3 separate regions of the Homo sapiens genome follow, and regions 2 and 3 are each linked to region 1. The links come from fine-mapping of genetic effects on gene expression. A gene starts in region 1. Each other region holds a variant in brackets. All regions are shown on one strand. Distances are between the middles of the regions.

Region 1 (8,182 bases):
CTGCAGTCCAGCCTGGGCGACAGAGTAAGACTTTGTCTCAAAAACAAAAAAAAATTAGGCCAGGCGCGGTGACTTACGCCTGTAATCCCAGCTCTTTGGGAGGCCGAGGTGGGTGGATCACCTGAGGTCAGGAGTTTGAGACCAGCCTGGCCAACATGGTGAAACCCCATCTCTACTAAAAAATACAAAAATTAGCCAGGCGTGGTGGTGCATGCCTATAATCCCAGCTATTCGGGAGGCTGAGGCAGGAGAGTTGCTGGAACCCAGGAGGTGGAGGTTGCAGTGAGCCGAGATCTTGTCATTGCACTCCAGCCCGGTCCAACAACAGCAAGACTCTGTCTCAAAAAAAAAAAAGCCAGGCATGGTGCTGCACGCCTGTAGTCTCAGCTACTGTGGAGGCTGAGGTGGGAGGATCCCTTGAGCCTGGGAGGTCAAGGCTGTAGTGAGCCATGATCAGATCATGTCACTGTGCTCTAGCCTAGGCAGCAGAGAAACCCTATCTCAAAAAAAAACAAAAACAAAAAGGGCGCCAGGTGTGCAGTGGCTCACGCCTATAATCCCAGCACTTTGGGAGGCCAAGGCAGGTGGATCACTTGAGGTCAGGAGTTCAAGACCAGGCTGACCAACATGGTGAAACCCCGTCTGTACTAAAAATACAAAATTAGCCGGGCATGGTAGGGCACACCTGTAATCCCAGCTACTCAGGAGGCTGAGGCAGGAGAATTGCTTGAACCTGGAGGTGGAGGTTGAGCAACAAGAGCGAAACTCTGTCTCCCCAAAAAAAAAAAAAAAGAAAAAAAAAGATGAAGTTTTTTGGGTTTTTTTCCTAAACACCTGGTCAAGTGTTTGCCTGTGTCCAGTCATTTGCCATATAAAAAGCACAGTTCAACCCTATTTTCTGCAAAGTGGAGGGAAAAGGGCTGTGGGCTGGTCAGTCAGCAGTTTAATTTAGAAGTAGTTATTGGTAGTGGCCAATAAATAAACTAACATCTTATTATTTCAAGCCATTTGGAGAGTTCAGGACTGTTTGTTCTCTTGTGAAATTTCCAGTGGTTGTTGAATTCAGATAAATAGCCGTGAAACAGTGTCTAGTTAAAGTAATAAGCTAACAAGTGTTCTAGCAGATCAGAAGTCAGAAAAATCAATGATTTACTCTCTGTGTCTAGCTATCCCTTCTCCTCCTCTTCCTGTAAACACATCAGTGTTTTTATTCAGAAGTACAAATGGTTATAAAACTCAAATATAAGTTGAAAATTATGTATTTTGCACAACTTCAGAATGAACTTTTCTTGAAATCCACAACTTGTAGATTGATGACTACAGCATGGTTCGATTTTTACCTTACGATCAGTCAGATGAAGAAAGCATGAACATTGTATTGCAGCATATTGATTTTGCCATTCAATATGGAGAAGACCTAGAATTTAAAGAACCAAAGGTAATTTCTGGTTTGGGGTGTTTGTTAGCTTTTGATAAAAATATTTGCCAGCACTCACTGGACTCTTGCATAATCCAGGCGACTCCTTAAATTAGTTTTTTGTCTTATTGATGGCAGTTAACTGGGCTTTTCTGGGTGATCTCTGAAATTAACACTGTACTCCACAAGCAGTATCACTTTTACTCTACTTTTGTTGAGGCAGTATGATGAAGCCTGTGTGTACTTAGAGCTTGGGTGTATGTGTAAAGAGGAGGTGAAATTGGGCTGCCCTCACGTATGTCATTGAGAAGACTAATGATAGTATCAGCTAAGCATTTTTTTATTTTTTTATTTTTTATTTTCCTGACCACTAGACTACCAGCGAAGTAAAGCACTATCACAGGAAATTAGCCAAGAATCGTCTTGAATGTAAATTCAAATGAGAAATGCTTCTGGGATAGAAGCACATTAATTTACTACATAACTGGAAAAAAATCTGTCAATCATGCCTTTTCTTACTATTAACAGTTACCTATAAGCAGCACCTGGAGCTGGTGCTGGGTAATTAGTTCCACATAGGGTATTACCTGAAAAATATATAAACACATACTAGTTCTGACTGAGGGGAAATGAATATATTTTCTATTTTGTGTTTCCATTGTGTCAGGAACGTGAAGATGAGTCTTCCTCTATGTTTGACGAATATTTTCAAGAATGCCAGGATGAATGAAGAGTTTACTAAAAGTAACCATCTAAAGAGCTTGTGGCCAAACCAGCAGAACATTCTTCTCTTCAAAGGATGCAATAGTAGAAAGCTACTTATTTTAATGAAAAAAAGTAAAACTTCGTTCTTTATCAGCCTCATGCCTGAATCAAATTTTTAATTATTCTGAAACTGCTGCTGTTTAAAGTGGAATCTTTTAGTATTATAACAGCATCACTTTAGATTTTGTAAGTCAAAATTGAAATGAATGCACATAGATTTATATATAAATTAGCACCTGAGCTAAGGTTAAGGCTGGTCTAAACTTATTTTCACTTTTTGTATTATTTTTGAGATGCAGGAATTACTGTAACAAAATATGTATGTCCGAAGGGAAAAAGCTGCAAGGATATATATAAGACCACTGCTTATCTGTATCTTCCCATTTTCCTATATTGAAAATGTATATTATTTATATAACTTAAAAAGTAAAAATAACTATGTTTTGAGATATGTATGTGTATATATAAAAGAAACAAAGGTTTTTAATGATTCTTGGACCTAGATAACAAGTACACTGCAGTGTCTAATTTGATTCATTTTAATTAAGCAAAATGTGGCCAAGCGTGGTGGCTCACACCTACAATGCCAGCACTTTAGGAGGCCGAGGCAGGTGGATCACCTGAGGTCAGGAGTTCAAGACCAACCTGGCCAACATGGTGAAAGCCTGTCTTTACTAAAAATACAAAAAATTAGCTGGGCGTGGTGGCGCGTGCCTGTAATCGCAGCTACTTGAGAGGCTGAGGTGGGAGAATCCCTTGAATCCAGAAGGTGGAGGTTGCAGTGAGCCAGGATCGCACCATTGCACTCCAGCCTGGGCAACAGAGTGAGACTCCATCTCAAAAAAAAAAAAAATGTGAGGACCTGTAAGTATCGGTGGTAGCTTATGCCTGGGGGCCAGGCTAGAGGGAAGGGTCGGGTGTCTACCCCATGGTCCACTCAGGGAGGAGCATGATGAGTGGGCAACATGGGGATGTGCTGGGCTGCCTGGGGACCTTCCTGTGGCCCTTAGAGGATAGATAGTGTGGAAACAGCCTGATCTCCCAGGGTTGCTAATTCTTAGAAACTTATTGTCACATGGGAGGGGAAGAAAGAAGAGGCAGATTTTCAGTTGCCCTCTTCCTTGGTCCTCCCTGGTTTAGCTTCTAGAGAGTATGGTATGTGCCTGTGGAGAAAAAGTGAAGGACCCGATTCCAGTGCCTTCCCCACTGGACACTGGGGTTTCAAAGATGAATCTGACAATTCCAGTCCTCGAGGATTTCACTGTCTCATAGGCAGGGCTGACAGAAATTCAGTAAATTTACACAAATTTACTGAAGTTCCGTGGATGCCAGACACTGGGGATAGAACAGGGATGCACAGTGCAGGCAGGGCCTTGCTCACGTGGGGCTGCCATGCTGGGCCTGTGAGACTGACCATGAGGAAGGAAACCTCAGAGAGAGGATGGAAAGAAAAGCAGAAAAGAAATGGAGAGTGATTATGGGGCTACTTTGGGCTCTTTGTCAAAAAAGACCTTGCCTAAAAGGTGCTATTTGCCCAGTCAGCTGAATGTGAAATCAGATGTGGGAACATGGGGTCCTATTTCAGGCTGGGAACTGGCAGAAGAAATGGCTCTCAGGCAGCAATGAACTTGACTTTTAACATAAGAAGTTTTCTAGTAATAAATAAGTTAAAACTCTGGGCTTTCAGTATGCTCCAAGCATGTAAGTTCTAAGCATTTTACATGTAATTCATTTCATCCTCACAAAACTATGAGGTAAATACTGTTACTGCCATTTTCAGGTGAGGAACTGAAGCACAGGCCAGTTAACTTGCTCAAAATTACAGAGCTAGTATGTATTGGAGCTGCGATTCAAACCTGGAGTCCAGTGCCCTTCAGTTTCTCCATTTTTAGATGCAGTGCATTGGGTTCATTCATTCACTCAAATATTGATGTTTCCTACATACCGTCACTGTTACGGGCGCAGGTGACAAAACGGACGAAGTGCTGCCTTTTTGGCATTCACAAGCACTAAGAGTAAACTAAATACAAGAATCGTAAGAACTAAGGGAAAAAGCGGGAGAGAAGGATAAGGCATGGGGCTGGAGTTGGGTGAACTGAAAATAGAATGAACGGAGAATGCTTCACAGGAAAGGTGATTTTTTTTTTTTTTTTTTTTTTTTTTTTTTGAGAGAGTCACACTGTCATCCCGGCTGGAGTGCAGCGGCGCGATCTTGGCTCACTGCAACCTCTGCCTCCTGGGTTCAAGCGATTCTCCGGCCTCAGCCTCCCGAGTAGCTGGGATGCTACCACGACCAGCTAATTTTTGTATTTTTAGTAGAGACGGGGTTTCACCATCCAGGCTGGTCTCGAACTCCTGACCTCAGGTGATCCACCCGCCTCGACCTCCCAAAGTGCTGGGATTACAGGCGTGAGCCACTATGCCCGGCCCTGAAAAGGTGACATTTGAAAAAAATACAAAAGAGGTGATTGATCTCAGATTCTGGAACCTCAAGACCCATCTCCATTCTGGGCGCTGCCTCACGCTGCACCACTCAAGGCCCCTGCCTAGTGCTCTGGCGCCTCCTTCAGATCCGCGCGGCCGCTGCAACCAGAAGCGGAACTGCAAGGCCGGAAGCTCCACGTCCGCACCCGCCCCTTCCGTTTCGCTTCCGCCTACCTCGCCCAGGCTGCCAGACCGGAAGCGCTCCGCTGTACCTGGATCCTGCTCCTCTGGGTTGAAACCCGGGCGCCGCCAAGATGCCGGTGAGGGTTCGATCCACGGTGTGGGGAGACAGCGGGGATTGCGAAGAGCAGAGAGAAACCGTGTGTGTGCCGAGAGAAGCGGGCGGCGGAAGGCAGAGAGGAAGCTGGGGCCCGAGAAGGAGGGAGGCGAGGGGAGGGGACCGGTTGCTGAAGGATTGGGGCGGCCCGGGGGTGCCAGTCGTGGGAGGCGGGGGCGCGGCAGGAGTGGGCCAAGGGTCCAGGGTGTGTGAGGAGGCCCTTTTCTCTCTCCGTCTACTCCTTCCGACTCCGGCAGGGTTCCCAAAGCCTCACTAGAGAGCGAAGCCAAGGGCTGCGCTTTTTATTTTTCATATTTCAAGTCCAGGGGTCTAGCTTCTCCTTTTTCTGTCAGGCCCACTTCCTCCTCCGCCCCGGGGTCAGGCTCCCTCTGCTGTTTGTCATTTGTCAGAACCCACTTCCCGGCAGCGGCGGCCATCCCGGAGCCAGCTGGGTTTAGGGCCCTCACAGACTCGTTCGGCGCCTGACTTCCAAAGATTTCCTTTTTCGTGTGCCATCAGAGTGGGAGTAAAAAATTATGACGGCCTGGTTGTACTTAATTTCTGACAGCCAGTTTGTGGGGTAGATTTATCACCGTCATGGTCTCCATTTTGCAGATTCGGGAAAAGGTGGTTCAGTTATTATGTGATTGTTCACACTTTTTTTGTTGTTTGTTTTTTGAGAGAGTCTCGTTCTGTCGCCCAGGCTGGAGTGCAGTGAGGCGATCTCGGCTCACTACAACTTCCACCACCCTGGTTCAAGCAATTCTCGTGCCTCAGCCTCCCGGGTAGCTGAGATTACAGGCGCGCGCCACCACGCCCAGCTAATTTTTTGCATTTTAGTAGAGACGGGGTTTCACCATGTTGGCCAGGCTGGTCTGGAACTCCAGACCTCAGGTGATCCGCCCCCTCGGTCTCCCAAAGTGCTGGGATTATAAGCGTGAGCCATCGCGCCCAGCCTGCTCACACATTATTTTTAACAAACGTTAACGAGCACCTGCTGCCTGCCAGGCTGTATTTACAGCAGCAAATAAGTTCAACAAATCCCTAATCTTAAAGAATGTACATTCAAATCGGGAGTCGAGACAATAAAAGTGTAAACATAATAAAGGAGATACATACGGTAGTGTCAGGTAGTGACAAATGCTATAAAGAAGCTAGATGGGTGGTCAGGCGCAGTGGCTCACGCCTGTAATCCCAGCACTTTGGGAGGCCTAGGTGGGCGGATCACGAGGTCAGGAGTTCAAGACCAGCCTGGCCAACATGGTGAAACCCCATCTCTACTAAAAATACAAAAATTAGCCAGGCGTGGTGGTGCGTGCCTGTAATCCCAGCTACTTGGGAGGCTGAGGCAGGAGAATCGCTTGAACCCAGGAGGCGGAGGTTGCAGTGAGCCGAGACCGTGCCACTGCACTCGTCTAGTGACAGAGTGAGACTCTGTACCACCACCCCCCCCCCCCCCGGAAAAAAAGAAGCTAGATGGGTAACAAGACAGTTGGTGAGAGGGAAGGCGGAGGCTGCTTTAGATAAAGCATACCTGTGATGAAAAGGAGCAAGCCATAGTTGCAAATACATTTTTTTTTTTTTTGAGACAGGGTGTGACCCTGTCTCTCAGGCTGCAGTTCAGTGACACAAACTCGGTTCAGGTGATCCTCCCACCTCAGCCTCCTGAGCAGCTGGGACTACAGGTGTACGCCACCATGCCCAGCTAAGTTTTTGTGTTTTTAGTAGAGACAGAGTCTCACCATGTTGTCCAGGCTGATCTCAAACTTCTGGGCTCAAGCAGTCCTCCTGCCTCACCCTCCCTAAGTGTTGGGATTACAGACATGAGCCACCTCGCTCAGCCTCACAAATGCATATTTTATGAATCCCATAATTACCATTTGACTCCTGAGCTCTGGGGTACACACTTTATAAATTATCCCATCTAATCCTCATAACGACCCTATGAAGTAGGTACCATGATTCCTGTTTTACAGAAGAGGAAACGGAGCCTCAGAGAAGTTAATTTGGACAAGGTTGCCTAGTAATGGTAAAACCAGGTTTTAAGCCAGGACTCTAGGCTGGGTGCAGTGGCTTATGCCTGTAATCCCAACACTTTAGGAGGCCAAGATGGGAGGATCACTTGAGCCCAGGAGTTTGAGACCAACCTGGGCAACATAATGAGACCCTGCCTCTACAAAAATAAAAATAAATTAGCTGGATGTGGTAGTGCATGTCCTCCCAGCCTCTCAAGAGGCTGAGGTGGGAGGATCACCTGGAGCCAGGAGTTTGAGGCTGCAGTGAGCTGTGATCCTGCCACTGTACTCCAGCCTAGGAAACTCTGTCTCCAAAAAAAAAAAAAAAAAAAAAAAGGACTCTAAATCCCTGTACTGGTTCCAATCGCACATAGAGCACCCTGGATTCACTCTGTTGGGTTTTGTTTGTTTGTTTTTTTGGGGGGAGGGGTTTGTTTGTTTGTTTGTTTTTGAGACAGAGTCTTGCTGTGTCGCCAGGCTGGAGTGCAGTGGTGCCATCTCGGCTCACTGCAACCTCTGCCTCCTGGGTTCAAGCGATTCTCATGCCTCAGCCTCCCAAGTAGCTGGGAATACAGGCATGCACTACCACACCCAGCTAATTTTGATATTTTTAGTAGAGATGGGGTTTCACCATGTTGGTCAGGGTGGTCTCGATCTTCTGGCCTTGTGATCTGTCCGCCTCAGCCTCCCAAAGTGTTTGGATTACAGGCGTGAGCCACCCCGCCCATCCCATCCTGTGATTATTTTCTGTCTGTCTTCTCTACTCTTCAAGGACCAGAATCGTACTACTTTGTATATTACTATATCACAGTGTCTTGCACATAGAAGGTGCTTAGCAATCATTTGATGAATGAATGAATATATGAATGGGACCCATGTTGACTTATAAAAAGCCAGACATCTTGTAAAAAGCAGAACTAAGAATCAGCATACAAAATGCTCTCATAAATGTGATTTTTTTTATCCCTTCCTTTAACACACACCTACCCACTGAAGGGAATATATATCTTCTCATTTTACAAATTTGGAAACAAGCTAAGAGAAGAAGAATGATGTCTTGGTCAAAAGCATAACGCCATGAAGTGGCAGAGCTGAAAAGATAGTGCTTGGGTCTTGGTTTAGCTGGGGGCTGGGTACCCTGATTTATATGATGTTTGTCTTTCTGTAGTGGAAATACTTTGGCCAGATACCAATGTGATGTCACCGAACATAGAATTGGAAGAG
Region 2 (8,175 bases), 660 kb after region 1:
GACTCTGTCTCAAAAAATAAATAAATAAATAAATAAATAAATAAGTTAGATGGCATGGTGGCATGTGCTTGAAGTCCCAGCTGCTTGGGAGGCCGAGGCTGGAGGATCACTTGAACCTAGGAGTTCGAGGCTGCAGTAAGCCATGATTGCACCACTGCACTCCAGCCTGGAAAATAGAGCAAGACCCCGTCTTTAAAAAGCAAAAAGAAAAGAACAAAAAAAAAGCCAAATCCTCACTCTGCACTTTCCAGGCATGTGACCTCACTTCCCTGAGCCTCACCTTCCCCAGCTGTGCAGTGGGGATCACGAGAGGCCCTTGGGCTGTGATGTCAGCGCCCAGCTCTGTATTGTCTGTGTGCTTTAATCTGGTTTATGCTGGGACCAACAGCCCCATCACCAGGCCCAAAGCCCACCACTGCCGTTGTCATCACTGGACTCATGAAATATTTTGAATTTTGCCCCTGCTTAAAGGCATTCATTATGTGCAGCTCAGGGACAAAGTCACACAAAGAATTCCATCATCAGCTGGGCGCGGTGGCTCACGCCTGTAATCCCAGCACTTTGGGAGGCCGAGGTCGGCGGATCACTTGAGGTCAGGAGTTTGAGACCAGCCTGGCCAACATGGCGAAATCCTGCCTCTACTAAAAATACAAAAATTAGCCAGGTGTGGTGGCGTGCGCCTGTAATCCCAGCTACTCGGCTGAGGCACAAGAACTGCTTGCACCCGGGAGGTGGAGGTTGCAATGAGCCGAGATTGTGCCACTGCACTCCAGCCTAGGCGACAGAGTGAGACTTTGTCTCAAAAAAAAAAAAAAAAAGAATTCCATCATTGGATGTGTCCAGTCCCTCACAGCCTCCAAATCGCGTGGCTGTGCCCTTAACTAGCCACACCCCATCTCCCTGGCATCACCCAGAGAAACGTGCAGTTCATATCCACTGCTGGTGCTGTCTCCGTCATTATCCTCAGAGCGCCACGGTGTCCGTCCCCCGAGTGTCTGCAGGCAGAGTCCCACCCTGGGCCCCCTTCGCTGACCTCCCACCCTTCACCCTGGCCCGCAGGGGAGCTGCCCCTGTCGCTGGCTGCCTGCACCAACCAGCCCCACATTGTCAACTACCTGACGGAGAACCCCCACAAGAAGGCGGACATGCGGCGCCAGGACTCGCGAGGCAACACAGTGCTGCATGCGCTGGTGGCCATTGCTGACAACACCCGTGAGAACACCAAGTTTGTTACCAAGATGTACGACCTGCTGCTGCTCAAGTGTGCCCGCCTCTTCCCCGACAGCAACCTGGAGGCCGTGCTCAACAACGACGGCCTCTCGCCCCTCATGATGGCTGCCAAGACGGGCAAGATTGGGGTGAGTGTGCGGCTGGGGGCACAGCTGATCCACCTACTCGTACCCCTCTGCACACACACACGAGGGTCTGCTGCTGGTATTCATTATTAATACGTGCATGCACCTCCCAACATGCCAACCCCAGTGTGCAGATGTCCCAGCTCAAGAACCTGCTATGGCTCCCTAGTGTCCAGCCAAGCTCCTTAGCTTCATCCCCGAGCCTCTCGCCTCATGTCACCCTACTGGATGTTCACCACTCCACCCCCACCAGCCAGGATGAGCCACTGATAAGAAACTGAGTCCCCGGGCCCTAGCCCAGCGGTGCTCCCAGCCTCAAACCTGTTGAATGGCCCTGCCCCAGTTCCTTCCCTTTTCTGGGCCGCGCAGCATGGGGCCTGGAGAAGGGTTTCTCAACTTCAGCATGATTATTTTGGGCGGCAGGCTCTTTGTGGTGGGGACCGTCTTGTGCTATTGCCAGACATTGATCTGCATCCCGGGCCTCTACCCACCAGATGCCAGGAACACCTCCCCTTACACTTGTGACCACCAAAAATATCTCCAGAACATTGCTGAATTGTCCTCTGGGGGGCACCATCGCTGGATTGGGAACCAAGTCTGGAGTATGCTAGAGGCAGGAGCACCTGTCCAAGCCCTGGCGCTACCACTTCCCAGTGTGTGACCTCAGACATCTCATTTCCCTTTTCTGTGCCTCAGTTTCCTTGTCTGTAAAATGGGGATATAAGAGTGTCCTCTGGTGTGGTGTTGTGACAAATGCGGTGATCCACATAAGGCTCTTAGGAAGGAGCCTGGGAGAAGCAGTAAGTGTCACTTACATGTCTGTAATGCCAGCTAGTTGGGAGGCTGAGGTGAGAGGATCGTTTAAGTCCAGCCTGGATTATTTGAGATCCCAAATAAATAAAAACCAAAATAAAAAAAAATGTAGCAAAAATTACTAAAATTGCAATTATACCATGGCCCTGAGGCAGTAGAAAGGCTCCAGTTTAAATCCTGGCTTTGGCTAGGCTCAGTGGCTCGTGTCTGTAATCCTAGCACTTTGGGAGGCTGAGGTGGGAGGAGCACTTGAGCCCAGGAGGTTGAGGCTGCAATGAGCTGTGATAGTGCCATTGCACTCCAGCCTGGGCAACAGAGCCAGACCCTGTCTCAAAAAACCCCAAAATCCTGGCTGTGCACAGTGGCTCATGCCTGTAATCCCAGCACTTTGGGAGGCCGAGGTGGGCGGATCACCTGAGGTCAGGAGTTCAAGACCAGCCTGGCCAACATGGTGAAACCCCGTCTCTACTAAAAATACAAAAATATTAGCTGGGTGTGATAGTGGGCACCTGTAATCCCAGCTACTCAGGAGGCTGAGGCAGGAGAATTGCTTGAACCTAGGAGGAGAGGGTTGCAGTGTGCTGAGATCGCGCCACTGCACTCCAGCCTGGGTGACAGAGAGAGACTCTGTCTCAAAACAAAAACCCCAAAATCCTAACATTGCCTGACCTTGGGCAATTCCCACCCCTCTCTGTGCCTCCGCTTCCCTGTGTGTAAGCCAGGGAAGGAGGAGTGGTAACAGGAAGGACCGCATGTGATCGTCAGTATTATAATTCACATGTCATTAAGATGGATTCATTGCTATTTTAACGGCATGAAGAAGATATTCATTACAATTAAGATGTTGAAGGCTCATCCAGGTTCTGTCTGGCTCCAGCTGACTGGTTAAGTGGCTTCTGGAACACCCTTCGTTTTTCCCAGCCTCCATTCTTTATCTGTAAACCAAGATAATAAGAGCAAGAATTAAACAAGATGAGGAAAGGGTCCTCCAGCAGCCGGTGCTTAGCTGTTTTCTGGGGAGGCGTCATGTGCTGAGCTGGGCCCAGCCCTGGGGGTCTTTCCAGTGTGAGCCCCCTGACCCTCCTGGCCCCCTGTGCAGATCTTTCAGCACATCATCCGGCGGGAGGTGACGGATGAGGACACACGGCACCTGTCCCGCAAGTTCAAGGACTGGGCCTATGGGCCAGTGTATTCCTCGCTTTATGACCTCTCCTCCCTGGACACGTGTGGGGAAGAGGCCTCCGTGCTGGAGATCCTGGTGTACAACAGCAAGATTGAGGTGGGCTCCAGGAGGGGGCATGGGGTGTGAGGAAGGAGGGGCAGGGCTGGGAGTAGGGACAGGGCCCTGGGGCTGGGCTGGGGGAGACAGCCCCAGCCTCTAGGACCCAACGTGGTGGGTCTGTTGGCTGAATGCAAGAGAAGGTGCCAACTAAGTGCCCAGAACAGTGTCTGCCATGTGAGGAAATGAGCAAGACTTGTGGGAAGATGGACTTTTGGGGCAGGTAGGACTGGGTTGGGATCCTGGCTCTGTAACTTACATGCTGTGTGTCTCAGGACAAGTGGCTCCACCTCTCTGGGTCTCAGCTTCTTCATTTGTAACCTGGGGATAAGGATCATGGATATCCCATGGGGTTCTTGGGAGGACCAAAGAGGTTAATTTTAGAATGGCTTGGCACAGAGTAAACATTATGTCAGCTTTTACTACTCATGGTTGTTATATGAACTTTTGAAAGCTCTTTTTTTTCGGTCAGGCATGGTGGCTTATGCCTGTAATTCTAGCATTTTGGGGAGCCAAGGTGGGCGGATTGCTTGAAGCCAGGAGTTTGAGACTAGCCTGGGCAATATGGCGAAACCCCGTCTCTACCAAAAAAAAATAATAAAAATGAAAATTAGCTAGGCATGGTGGTGCGAGCCTGTAGTCCCAGCTACTTGGGAGGCGAGGTGGGAGGATCACCTGAGCCTGGGGAGGTCGAGGCTTCAGTGAGCCGAGATCATGCCACTGCACTCCAGCCTGGGTGACAGAGTGAGATCCTGTCTCAAAATAAACAAACAAACAAACAAACAAAAAACCAAGCTTTTTTTTCCCTACTTAGCAGTATTTTGTGAACGTCGTTCTGTACTTTTAAATATTCTTTGGTAATATTGTCGCTGCATGTAAACATACCATATTCAAATGAACTGTTCTCTTATTGCTGGT[C/T]GCTTGGGTTTGTTTCTGCCTTTATCAGGAATAACACTATAAGAGCATCTCTGTGGCTGCTTTATTGCACAAATCATGATTATAGAGAAACTCAAGTTAATAAAGGGCTAGGAAGCTATAAAAATGGAGCAGAAAATGCTGGGGACTGGGTGCAGGTGGTCTTCCTTCTAGCCCTGCCCTGTGGCTTACTGGTCTGTGAGCTTGGCTTCCTTGCAAGACCTCATTTCCCTCATTTTTTGAATTAGTGACCATCTTGATTTAAATTAGTGGTGGCAGGAGGTTTAGCATCTCAGGTGCAAACTGATTGATTAGTAGTGTCTACCCAGGGAACTGTATGAATACAATTGTGCAGGGCTCAATTATTGATGTCTGCCCTGGGTTCAGAATTGGAGAATTGTGGTGAGTCAATCATTTATCATCTTTGGGCAAAATTTCTCAATCTTTCTCTCTGAATCAGAATTTCTGAGAGCGGAGGCCAGGATTTATACTTGCAGCAAGTTACATAAATTATTTTGCGGCCAGCAGCTTGGTACTATCCACAGATTGGAGTTTGGGAACCATGAGAATAAATGTCTTTTTTTCTTTTTTGAGATGGAGTCTCACTCTTGTTGCCCAGGCTGGAGTGCAGTAGTGCGATCTAGGCTCACTGCAATCTCCGCCTCCCAGGTTCAAGTGATTCTCCTGCCTCAGCCTTAGGAGTAGCTGGGATTACAGGTGTGCACCACCACGCCCGGCTAATTGTTGTGTTTTTAGTGGAGACAGGGTTTCACCACATTGGCCAGGCTGATCTTGAACTGCTGACCTTAGGTGATCCGCCTGTCTTGGCCTCCCAAAGTGCTAGGATTACAGGCATGAGCCACTGCGGCCGGCCTGAAAATAAATGTCTTTTAAGGGACTTTCCAGTTCCGAGTTCTGTGATGCTAGAATAGGGTGGAAAGGTACATTGAGGCAGAATTGGGCAGCTGAATCCATTCATGAATCCGTGAATGCAGCTGAGGAATGGATGGAAAGAGAAAGCGCTGTCCGGGTGGAGGGTGGGGGAAGGCACACCCGAGGCAGCCTGCCTGGACCCCCCACCCATCTCAGGAAGGCAGCCCCCGACCACCCTGCCTCTCTTAGAACCGCCACGAGATGCTGGCTGTGGAGCCCATCAATGAACTGCTGCGGGACAAGTGGCGCAAGTTCGGGGCCGTCTCCTTCTACATCAACGTGGTCTCCTACCTGTGTGCCATGGTCATCTTCACTCTCACCGCCTACTACCAGCCGCTGGAGGGCACAGTGAGTGCCCGGGGACCGGGCAGGGGCTGGGGCAGGCACTGGGCTGAGCCATGCAGGACTGGGGCACAACCTCATCCTTCTGGGTCCCCTGTAGGGGGACCCGGAGAAGGTTTAGGAACAGGTTGGGGAGGCGCCCTCCAGCATCCACGGGTGGCCCTGAGCTGGGAGGAGGAAGACTCAGGAGGAAGAGAGTGAAGGAGGAGGCTCCATGGGATGCCGATGTTTCGGGCCTGGGGGAACATCTGGATTGGGGGCCAGATGTTGGAGGGGCTGGGTGACGACCTGTGTGCCCTTGCTGCTCCCCAGCCGCCGTACCCTTACCGCACCACGGTGGACTACCTGCGGCTGGCTGGCGAGGTCATTACGCTCTTCACTGGGGTCCTGTTCTTCTTCACCAACGTAAGTGCCTGGCCCCCGTGCCCCCCACCCTGCCTGCCCTCCTCTTCTCTTCCTGCACCTCTTTTCTCTCCCTCTTTTTCTCTTCTCTCTCCTCCAAATGGTCCTTCTCCTTTCCTTCCTCCTTTTATTTTCCCATTTCTCTTCTACCTCCTCCAATCCCACGTTCTCCATCTCTGCTTTTTTCTCCTTTTCTAACAGGAAAGAGTCCTTTGTCTTTTCTCTGTACCAGCCTCTGCCTCCCTCTCTTCTATCCCTTTCTCTGTCTCCTCTCTCCTCCTCTCCTCTCCTGCTGGCCCCACCCCTTTCACGTGCCCCCTCCTGTCTTCCAGATCAAAGACTTGTTCATGAAGAAATGCCCTGGAGTGAATTCTCTCTTCATTGATGGCTCCTTCCAGCTGCTCTAGTGAGTAGAGGTCCCTGGGCCGGCAGCTTCTGGGTGAGGAAGGTGGGTTTGGGCTGCTAGGTCGTCCAGATTCAGGAGAGAGGTGATTCTGTTAGAAATGAATGCACCCAACCTGGGCAGCTCTAACCCAAAGTCAGGACAAAGCCACAAACAATAGGGTCTTCTGGTTCAAGAAAAATTCTGATTGCTAGGGAGTTATCATATACAACATGGATAGAAATAATTTTAACCTCTTATGCTGGTGAATGATTGCTAATGTCTGCCTGAAGTGCCATGTTAAGAATTTTGCACCTGTGTCTGTGTTTAGTGGGAAAGAGTTGGGATTGATTAATGATGTCTGCCTGGGACAGAGAATGAGAGAGTTACTGAGTGTGTGTTACCTCTTTCACATTTCCCTTAGAGTTGGAGAATGATGAAATTCACTTAGCCACAAAATCTCCACTGAACACCACTAAATCTTTCTTTAGCAATTCCAAGGGGCATCACTTCAGGATCCTGTGGGACCTCAGGATTAATTGCCAGCTAATTGAATGTTCTTGTTAACAGAATGCTGGGGAACCCTGCTAATCCACTTTGTTTCTTTTCTGGGGGTCTAGAAGGCATTGGGAAGTCCTGATACCCTGGAGGGCTTGGAGGCGTGTCTTCCCCTCCAGAGCCTCATTGTCCCCTCTCCCCTCTGGCCTCTCTTGTGGTCTCTGCTGCACTGCAGCTTCATCTACTCTGTCCTGGTGATCGTCTCAGCAGCCCTCTACCTGGCAGGGATCGAGGCCTACCTGGCCGTGATGGTCTTTGCCCTGGTCCTGGGCTGGATGAATGCCCTTTACTTCACCCGTGGGCTGAAGCTGACGGGGACCTATAGCATCATGATCCAGAAGGTACGGGCTGGGAGGACCCTCTGGACTCGTGTGTTCCTGGAGGGAGTCACACACACACCACATGCACACTTATGCACCTGCAGACCTGAGGATGCTGGGTACCGTGGGGGCAGGAGGCATGGTCTGGACACTGGGGTGGGACCAGGGTGGAGATGGAGGAATGGGGAAAGTGAGAAACCATGTGTCTCCTCTTTGCCTCCATAATCCCGCTGGGGTCTTTAGATTCTCTTCAAGGACCTTTTCCGATTCCTGCTCGTCTACTTGCTCTTCATGATCGGCTACGCTTCAGGTGAGCTCTGGGTGCTCAGGTGGTCCTGGCAGGGGTGGTGCAAGGACGGGAACAGTAGCCATGATGTATAGGGGACAATAGCAGCCTTGCTGAGTTCTTTTTTTTTTTTTTTTTTTTTTGAGGTGGAGTTTTGCTCCTGTTGCCCGGGCTGGAGTGCAATGGCACAATCTCAGCTCACTGTAACCTCCACCTCCCAGGTTCAAGTAATTCTGCCTCAGCCTCCCACGTAGTTGGGATTACGGGCTCCTGCCACCACGCCCCACTATTTTTTAATTTTTTTTTTTTTGTATTTTTAGTAGAGATGGGGTTTCACCATGTTGGCCATGCTGGTCTTGAACTCCTGACCTCAGGTGATCCACCCTCCTTGGCCTCCCAAAATGGTGGGATTACAGGTGTGAGCCAACGCGCCTGGCCACTGAGTTCTTATTTGTGTGCCAGGCACCAGACTAAGTACGTTTCCATCCTTGCCTCCCAACAAGCCTGTAAGCTAAGTGCCTTTATTATCCCCTATTATAGAAAAGGAAACTGAGGCTTAGGAGGGTTAAATAACTAGCACAAGTTCAAAA
Region 3 (8,182 bases), 68 kb before region 1:
AAAACAAGCTTGAACAAAACATTAAACAAGTAAAATTAGGATTATCAATATTTGAGATACTTCAGTTTCTAATACATTGCTTACCTTCAGTTCAGTAGATTTCGTAAGGTTTAACACTACAGCATTCTGTAAAGCTTATCATCTATCTTATAGAATAAGATGTTATTAACTGGGACTCCACTATGAAGGAATTTGTGATATTTGTTGGGATGAAATTTACGTTTGTACTATTATGAATACAAGATTTACCAAACAAATTTGAAAAGTAAAATTAGAAGGAAACATTTTAGGAAACAAATTATTTATATGATCTCAGCATATTATTGTTATTCAAGATAGAATATACCATAAAAAAATCATAATTTATTCTTGGAAACAAGTGACCCAAACCTCTACTTGAATATGCTTTGTTAGAAATTACTGACTGAACAATTTAACTATTTTCTATTGATATTCTGTAAATCAGACTTTTCTCTATCAGACTTTTCTTCATTCTATAATTCAGACTAGCTTCACTTTTCCCCTATCAAAAAATAAGAAAATCAATTTTCAGAACATGGCTGGGTGGGGATTGGGGAGGAAGACTGCAAAGGGAGACAGATGAGAATTCTTGACTGAGATGTGGTTGAATCTCAATGCTTTTACCTTTCTGAGACACAGAGACCCTGGCACTTCCTCTGTGTTGCTGACACTGCTTTCTGATACTTCACTGACATCTCCATCCACTCTTTTCATTGCAGGGCTGCCACAGTTTTCCAATGCAGATATGTTTGTGAGAGTCTCCTTAGGATAAAGCCTTCTTGGTGCTGCTTTTTTTGAAATACATTCCAGGGCCTGGCCAGTTACATTTTTGCCAGCCTTTTTTTCAATCAGATCTGACCTGAGGTATTAATAGGCATTAAATGAATGAACTGTTTATTGTGAAATATATTTTTATATAACTAATGGACAATGTGGGATGACAATGATAGCACTGGATTAGGGAATATATTGAAATACATGGAACTAAATTGTTGCAAGTTAAAATTTATATATATGATCATTTATAAATTCTCTTGACAGACAATCTTTCAGTAAAGCAACTCATTGTGCATAGAATATCTTGTGATATGGTAACAGGAGCAAGTTAGGGGAAAAGTCAAGTAAATTACTATACATCTATATGATAAAATTGTGTACAGTCATTAAGAATCATGTTTTCGGCCGGGCACGGTGGCTCACGCCTGTAATCCCAACACTTTGGGAGGTCAAGGGGGGTGGATCACGAGGTCAGGAGTCCAAGACCAGCAGGGCCAAGATGGTGAAACCTCGTCTCTACTAAAAATACAAAAAAATTAGCCGGGCGTGGTGGCAGGCACCTGTAATCCCAGCTACTCTGGAGGCTGAGGCAGAAAACTGCTTGAACCCAGGAGGCGGAGGTTGCAATGAGCTGAGATGGCGCCACTGCACTCCAGCCCGGGTGACAAAGCGAGACTCTGACTCAAAAAAAAAAAAAAAAAAAGAATTATGTTTTCAAGTCATTATCAGTGATATTGAAACACACCCACAATACCAAAACCGCATATGCTCTATGATCCTAATCTTGTTTTAAAATACAAGGATAGGCCGGGTGCAGTGGCTCACATCTGTAATCCTAGCACTCTGGGAGGCCGAGGCAGGTAGACTGCTTGAGCCCAGGAGTTAAGAGACCAGCCTGGGCAACATGGTAAAACCCGATCTCTACAAAAAACACAAAAATTAGCTGGGTGTGGTGGCAGGTGCCTGTAGTCCTGGTTACTCAGGAGGCTGAGGTGGAATGCTTCAGCCTGGGAGGTTGAGACTATGATGAGCTATGACTGTGCTACTGCACTCCAGCCTGGGTGACAGAGTGAGACCCTGTCTCAAAAAATTTTTTTAAAAAATTTGAAAATACAAGTATACACAAAATTAAGTCTGAAAGAAAATGCAGTGAGCCAGAATGTTACAGTGGCTATCTCTGGGTGATGCAATTATGAGTAAGTTTTATTTTCTTCTTTGTACTTTTCTCTATTTTCCAAATTTCCTGAAATAACTTTTACAATAAAGCATCATTCTTCCCCCAAAAGAAAAGAAATTAAGAAAGAAAAAAAAGCCAGGCGCAGTGGCTCATGCTTGTAATCCCAGCGCTTTGGGAGGCTGAGGCGGGCAGATCACAAGGTCAGGAGTTCGAGACCAGCCTGACCAACATAGTGAAACCCCGTCTCTACTAAAAACACAAAAATTAGCCAGGCGTGTTAGTGCACACATGTCATCCCAGCGACTAGGGAGGCTGAGGCAGGAGAATTGCTTGAACCCAGGGGGTGGAGGTTTTAGTGAGCTGAGATCATGCCACTGCACTCCAGCCTGGGCAACAGAGTGAGATTCTGTCTCAAAAAAACAAAAAAAAAACAACAAAAAAAAAAAAAAAAAAGAAAGCAAGAAAGCAATGGCTATCCCTATATCTGAGCAAAAGTTCTAGGAAGTGAATATAGACTTTCCTGTGAAAACACTATATTACCCCTAAAAAAAAACAAAAAAAAAAACTAAAGGCCCGATGTGGTGACTCACACCTGTAATCCCAGCACTTTGGGAGGCTGAGGCAGGTGGATGGCTTCAGCCCAGAAGTTTGAGACCAGCCTGGGCAACATGGTGAAACCCTGTCTCTACAAAAAAAAATACAAAAAATTAGCTGGGTGTGGTGGCACATGCCTATAGTCCCAGCTACTTGGGAGGCTGAGGTGGGAGGACCACTTGAGCCAGGGAAATGGAGGCTGCAGTGACTTGAGATTGCGCCAGAGCACTCAAGCCTGGGCAATGGGAGTGAGACCTTGTCTAAAACAATAACAACAACAACAACAACAACAAAAACTAAAAATTGGAATTGAGTTCTGGGAAACAACACAGATAAACCAGACAGTCTTGTTCAATTCTGGTCAGAACAGAAAAAGCAAATATCTGACACGAGATTGGTGATGTTTCTATGCTACAGGTAAGTTTCACTACAGCTCTTCTGTATTCAGTCAAAATTTGTTAACTAATATTTCACTCCTCAATTGTTTCCTAAGTGAATGCAAGTGAATTATTTCAAAATAAGATTATGATGGCTTGTCCCAAGTAATAAAGAAGTTAAAACACAGTCTTACCTTTTTCGTTTCTGTGAAAGACACAGTGACTGTGGTGAAGATGCTCTACTTTGTTCATCAGCTAATGTGGCCAAAATAAAGTTAGCTTCCACTAACATATCATCAATACTCAAAGCCAGAGGTCTAAAAAAGCCAAGTCAGAGCAACAGTGACACTCATTTTCTGATGGACATTAGAAACACATTAGAAATGATACTTAATTCTGGACTAAAAAGAAACAGGGGAGGCCAAGGCGGGTGGATCATCTGAGGTTGCGAGTTTGAGACCAGCCTGACCAACATGAAGAAACCCCGTCTCTACTAAAAATACAAAAAAAAAATTAGCCGGGCATGATGGTGCATGCCTGTAATCCCAGCTACTCAAGAGGCTAAGGCAGAAGAATCACTTGAACCTGGGAGGCGGAGGTTGCAGTGAGCTGAGATTGCACCATTGCACTCCAGCCTGGGCAACAAAAGCAAAACTCCATCTCAACAACAACAACAACAACAACAACAACAACAACAACAAACAGTAGGCCGGGTGCTATGGCTCACGCCTGTAATCCCAGCACTTTGGGAGGCCGAGGCTGGTGGATCTCTTGAAATCAGGAGTTCAAGGCCAGCCTGGCCAACATGGTGAAACCCCGTCTCTACCAAAAATACAAAAATTAGCCAGGCATGGTGGTAGACGCCC[G/A]TAATCCCAGCTACTTGGGAGGCTGAGGCAGTAGAATTGCTTGAACCCGGGAGGCAGAGCCTGCAGTAAGCCGAGATCATGCCACTGCACTCCAGCCTGGGCGACAGAGTGAGACTCCGTCTGAAAAAAGAAAAAAGAAAATTTTAAATGCCATGTTTTAGCATCTTTCAAAATTTTAGTTTGATAAGTATTAATAGTAAAGTTTAGGTATTCCTGAGGTGTTAATTAATTTCAAAGTGATCCAAAAGGTTTTGTTATTGATATAAAACAAAAGAAACAAGCTCAGAAAAATTCTCAAGGACCTACTTCCCAGGGAAATCAAAATAAATGGATATAGGAGCATGTGTAGCTTCTGAAAATGTCAGTATTCCCTGAAAAAAGAAAAGAAGAAAAAAACTTAAAATCCTTATAAAAACTTACAGTGAAAATTTGAATTTTAAATTGATACAAATCTTTATTTACCTTCAATTCTTTGAAACAAAATGTTATCTCAGTGTCCATTCCAATTTGAAAGAAGTCAAACTCATCTGAGCCAACAAACATCTCACTGTGTACAGCATTGCTCAAATCTGTTTAATATTATGGGAAAATAAAGAATAAAATTAGTTCCAGAGATGAATTTAGAGGAAAAAAGAATTTTTCTGGTCTCCCAAATCCCATCCCATTTCCTCCTGCCCTACGTACCCTAACTTCCCCACCTGATATCTGCATGCTATTTTTAAATGCCTTTGTTCAAAAGAGAAATTTAATATTTTACATTTCTCTTAAACTACCCAATGATTCAGGGTCTATAAGTCCATTTCACATAAATTAAACTGTTTATGTTTAAATACCAGATTTCTTATCTAAGTTAATTAATAAATTTTTTGTTTTCTTCTTTTTGAGAGAGGGTCTTACTGTGTTGCCCAGGCTGGAGTGCAGTGGCATGATCACAGCTCACTGCAGCCTTGACCTCCTGGGCTCAAGTGATCCTCTGCCTCAGTCTTCTGAATAGCCGGGACTACAGGCATCTGCCACTTACATGCACATTTTTAACTTTTTTTTTTTTTCTTTTGAGACGGAGTCTCACTCTGTTGCCCAGGCTGGAGTGCAGTGGCACAATCTCGGCTCACTGCAAGCTGTGCCTCCCGGGTTCACGCCATTCTCTTGCCTCAGCCTCCCGAGTTGCTGGGACTACAGGCGCCCACCACCACACTCGGCTAATTTTTTGTATTTCTTTTAGTAGAGATGGGGTTTCACTGTGTTAGCCAGGATGGTCTCGATCTCCTGACCTCGTGATCCACCCGCCTCAGCCTCCCAAAGTACTGGGATTACAGGCGTGAGCCACTGCGCCTGGCCATATTTTTAAATGAAAGTACAATCTTACCCTACATACCATTTCATAATCTACCCAATAATATATCAATATATCTTGGCTATTTTTCCATGTCAATAAGCACATTTTTATAATTATTTGTGTGTGTGTGTGTGTGTGTGTGTGTGTGTGTGTGTGTCAATGTTTTGTGTTTTCCACTACAAAATTGCTTCATTAAACCTCTCTGATACATACCCTCAGAGAGAGAGGAATGTATTTATACATACACATATAACATTACTTTAATGTTTTTATTATTTTTTTTTTGAGATGGAGTCTCATTCTGTTGCCCAAGCTGGAGTCCAGTGGTGTGATCTCGACTCAGTGCAAGGTCCACCTGCCAGATTCTAGCGATTCTCCTGCCTCAGCCCCCTGAGTAACTGGGACTATAGGCACACACCACCACGTCCAGCTAATTTTGTATTTTTAGTAGAGAAAGGGTTTCACCATGTTGGCCAGGCTGGTCTCAAACCCCTGACCTCAGGTGATCAGCCCTCCTCGGCCTCCCAAAGTTCTGGGATTACAGGCATGAGCCACCACGCCCGGCCCATTAATTTTTTTTGAGACTGGGTCTCACTCTGTTGCCCAGGCTGTAATACAGTGGCATGATCATAGCTCACCTGCAACCTTGAAATCTTGAGCTCAAGTGATCCCCTTGCCTCAGCTGCTGCAGCATAGACTACAGGTGCATGCCACCATACCTGGCTAATTTTTTATTTTTGTAGAGATGGGATCTTGCTGTGTTGGCCAGGCTGGTCTGAACTCCTGGCCTCAAGCAATCCTGCCTCAGCCTCCCAAAGCACTAGGATTACAGGGGTGAGCCATTGTACCTGGCCAATGTTACTTTTAATAGTTTCATAGTATTTCATTATCTTCACTCAATCTCCTGTTGTGAGATCTAAAGTATAGAAGGAGATATACCCAACTATTAAAAGTGCTTATCTCTGTATAGTGGGATATCAGGTGACTTAAAAAATTTTTTTTGTATTTTTAATTTTCTTCAATGAATATCAATTATATAAGTAGTAAGAACAAAGATTGAGTGATATATATATACATATTTATTATTATTATTATTTTAGACAGAGTCTTGCTCTGTCGCCAGGCTGGAGTGCCGTGGCGTGATCTTGGCTCACTGCAACCACCGCCTCCCAGGTTCAAGTGATTAATCCCCTGTCTCAGCCTCCCAAGTAGCTGGGACTATAGGTGCACACCACCACGCCCCACTAATTTTTTGTATTTTAATAGAGACGGGGTTTCACCATGTTGGCCAGGATGGTCTCGATCTTCTGACCTCATGATCCGCCTGCCTCAGCCTCCCAAAGTGCTGGGATTACAGGCGTGAGCCACCGCACCCGGCCAAATGATATATTTTTTAAAGGATCAAACAATGTCTTAAATATACATTCATCTCCAACAAGAAGGCTCATGTCACTCCTAATATACTAGCATAGAAGAAGTTTAATAATAAGATTAAACAACTAGATTGCCAGTCAACTATAACTTCATTAGAAAGCTACTCACAAGGGACAGTTTCTCCTGGCTACTAAATGGCCATCTTTATTCAGAGATGGCATGATGGTACATAAAACAGACCCTTTCACTAGGCAATTTGTGACACCAGGCAAGCCACAGTTTCTCTGTGCTTCAATTTTTTTTTTTTTGAGACAAGATCTTGCTGTCTTGCCTGGGCTGGAGTGCAGTGGCACAATCATGGCTCACTGCAGTCTCAAACTTACGGGCTCAAGCAATCCTTCCACCTTAGCCTACCAAGTAGCTGACACTACAGGTGTGCACCACCATGCCTGGCTATTTTTCTTATGTTTTGTAAAGATGAGGTGTCACTATGTTGCCAAGGCTGGTAACTCCCCTCAAGTGATCCTTCTGCCTCAGCCTCCCAAAGTGTCCAACTGCTTCATATGTGCTTTATATGTGCTTTCAATTTCTTCATATGTAAAATGGGGATAATAATAGTACCTACATACATCTTAGAGTTGTTATGAAGATCAAATGACTTCATAAATGCAAACTATTTAGAACAGAACCTGGCACAAACACTACAAAAGTCATGTGACCCAACTTAAGCCCTGGTTTTTCACTTTAAAATAATAGTTCTTTCCTTTGTATCCTCTCCTTACTGCTGTCACCAAAAACATATTATCTAAGGTCAAAGAGTCTCAAACAGCTTGTTGTGCCAAAAGACCGTAGCAAATTTTCTTTTTTCTTTTATTTGAGACAGAGTCTCTGTCGCCCAGGCAATGGAGTGCAATGGTGCAATCTTGGCTCATTGCAACCTCCACCTCCCGGGTTCAAGCGATTCTCCTGCCTCAGCCTCCTGAGTAGCTGGGATTACAGGCCTGAGCCACCACACCCAGCTAATTTTTTTATTTTTAGTAGAGATGGGTTTTCGCCATGTTGGCCAGGCTGGTCTCGAACTCCCGACCTCAGGTAATCCACCTGCCTCAGCCTCCCAAAATGCTGGGATTACAGGCGTGAGCCACAGCACCTGGCCCCATTCTCCTAGTTTTAAAACACCCTGAATTTCAAAGCCAAATATTTTAATTGCTGATTGTGTTAAACTTGTTGGATCTCTTAAAGCTTTTTCCAACCTTTCTACATCTTACTGCTTTTTAGACAGGAATAAAATTATGTCACTAATATTTGCAGTATGGTTAGTAATCGAGAGACAGGAAGTAATAACCCATCAAAACACCATTTCAGATACAATCTTTACCCATTGATTCCTCATTAGAACTCTTGAGGCAAAAATTCAGTGGAGTAACAGCAAGAGTAACTTCCTCTTGACTTGATGTAAAAAGAACAATGGCATCAGCAAGCAATCTATAAAATGTAAAGAACAGTATTAACATTATTTGAAAAACAAACAGAAAGACATACCTTATTAACTGGGACTCAAATCTCTAATCTGGAAATAAATAATTACTTGGCCTGGGTTTAGAAAAATTTACCCAAACTCCTACCTTCTTTCTTATACATAGCTGCTATATTTTCAGCA

The links.
Region 2: its variant is fine-mapped to the expression of ARPC3 in blood mononuclear cells (TOPMed, PIP 0.97).
Region 3: its variant is fine-mapped to the expression of ARPC3 in skeletal muscle (GTEx, PIP above 0.99). The same link has a PIP of 0.9 or more in lymphoblastoid cells.

What each region holds. Positions count from the first base shown.
Region 1 is chr12:110,446,999-110,455,180 of GRCh38, reverse strand. It overlaps ARPC3 (actin related protein 2/3 complex subunit 3), which reads left to right and starts at 4,844. Exons shown (of 7, transcript NM_001278556.2): 1 at 4,844-4,926. The coding sequence starts at 4,921. GPN3 (GPN-loop GTPase 3) reads left to right here. Exons shown (of 8, transcript NM_016301.4): 7 at 1,310-1,438; 8 at 2,085-2,695. The coding sequence ends at 2,147. RefSeq lists enhancers at 4,631-4,730, 5,436-6,288.
Region 2 is chr12:109,791,797-109,799,971 of GRCh38, reverse strand. TRPV4 (transient receptor potential cation channel subfamily V member 4) reads left to right here. Exons shown (of 16, transcript NM_021625.5): 6 at 1,060-1,358; 7 at 3,268-3,447; 8 at 5,485-5,643; 9 at 5,950-6,042; 10 at 6,372-6,445; 11 at 7,155-7,320; 12 at 7,543-7,609. Among named protein-coding and RNA genes, the nearest start is that of FAM222A-AS1, 22 kb to the right of the region's middle. The variant C/T (reference allele first, on the strand shown) is at 4,366.
Region 3 is chr12:110,514,875-110,523,056 of GRCh38, reverse strand. It overlaps RAD9B (RAD9 checkpoint clamp component B), which reads right to left. Exons shown (of 11, transcript NM_001286535.2): 6 at 7,901-8,007; 7 at 4,275-4,381; 8 at 4,119-4,183; 9 at 3,141-3,263; 10 at 646-880. Among named protein-coding and RNA genes, the nearest start is that of RAD9B, 17 kb to the right of the region's middle. RefSeq lists a silencer at 7,525-7,768. The variant G/A (reference allele first, on the strand shown) is at 3,813.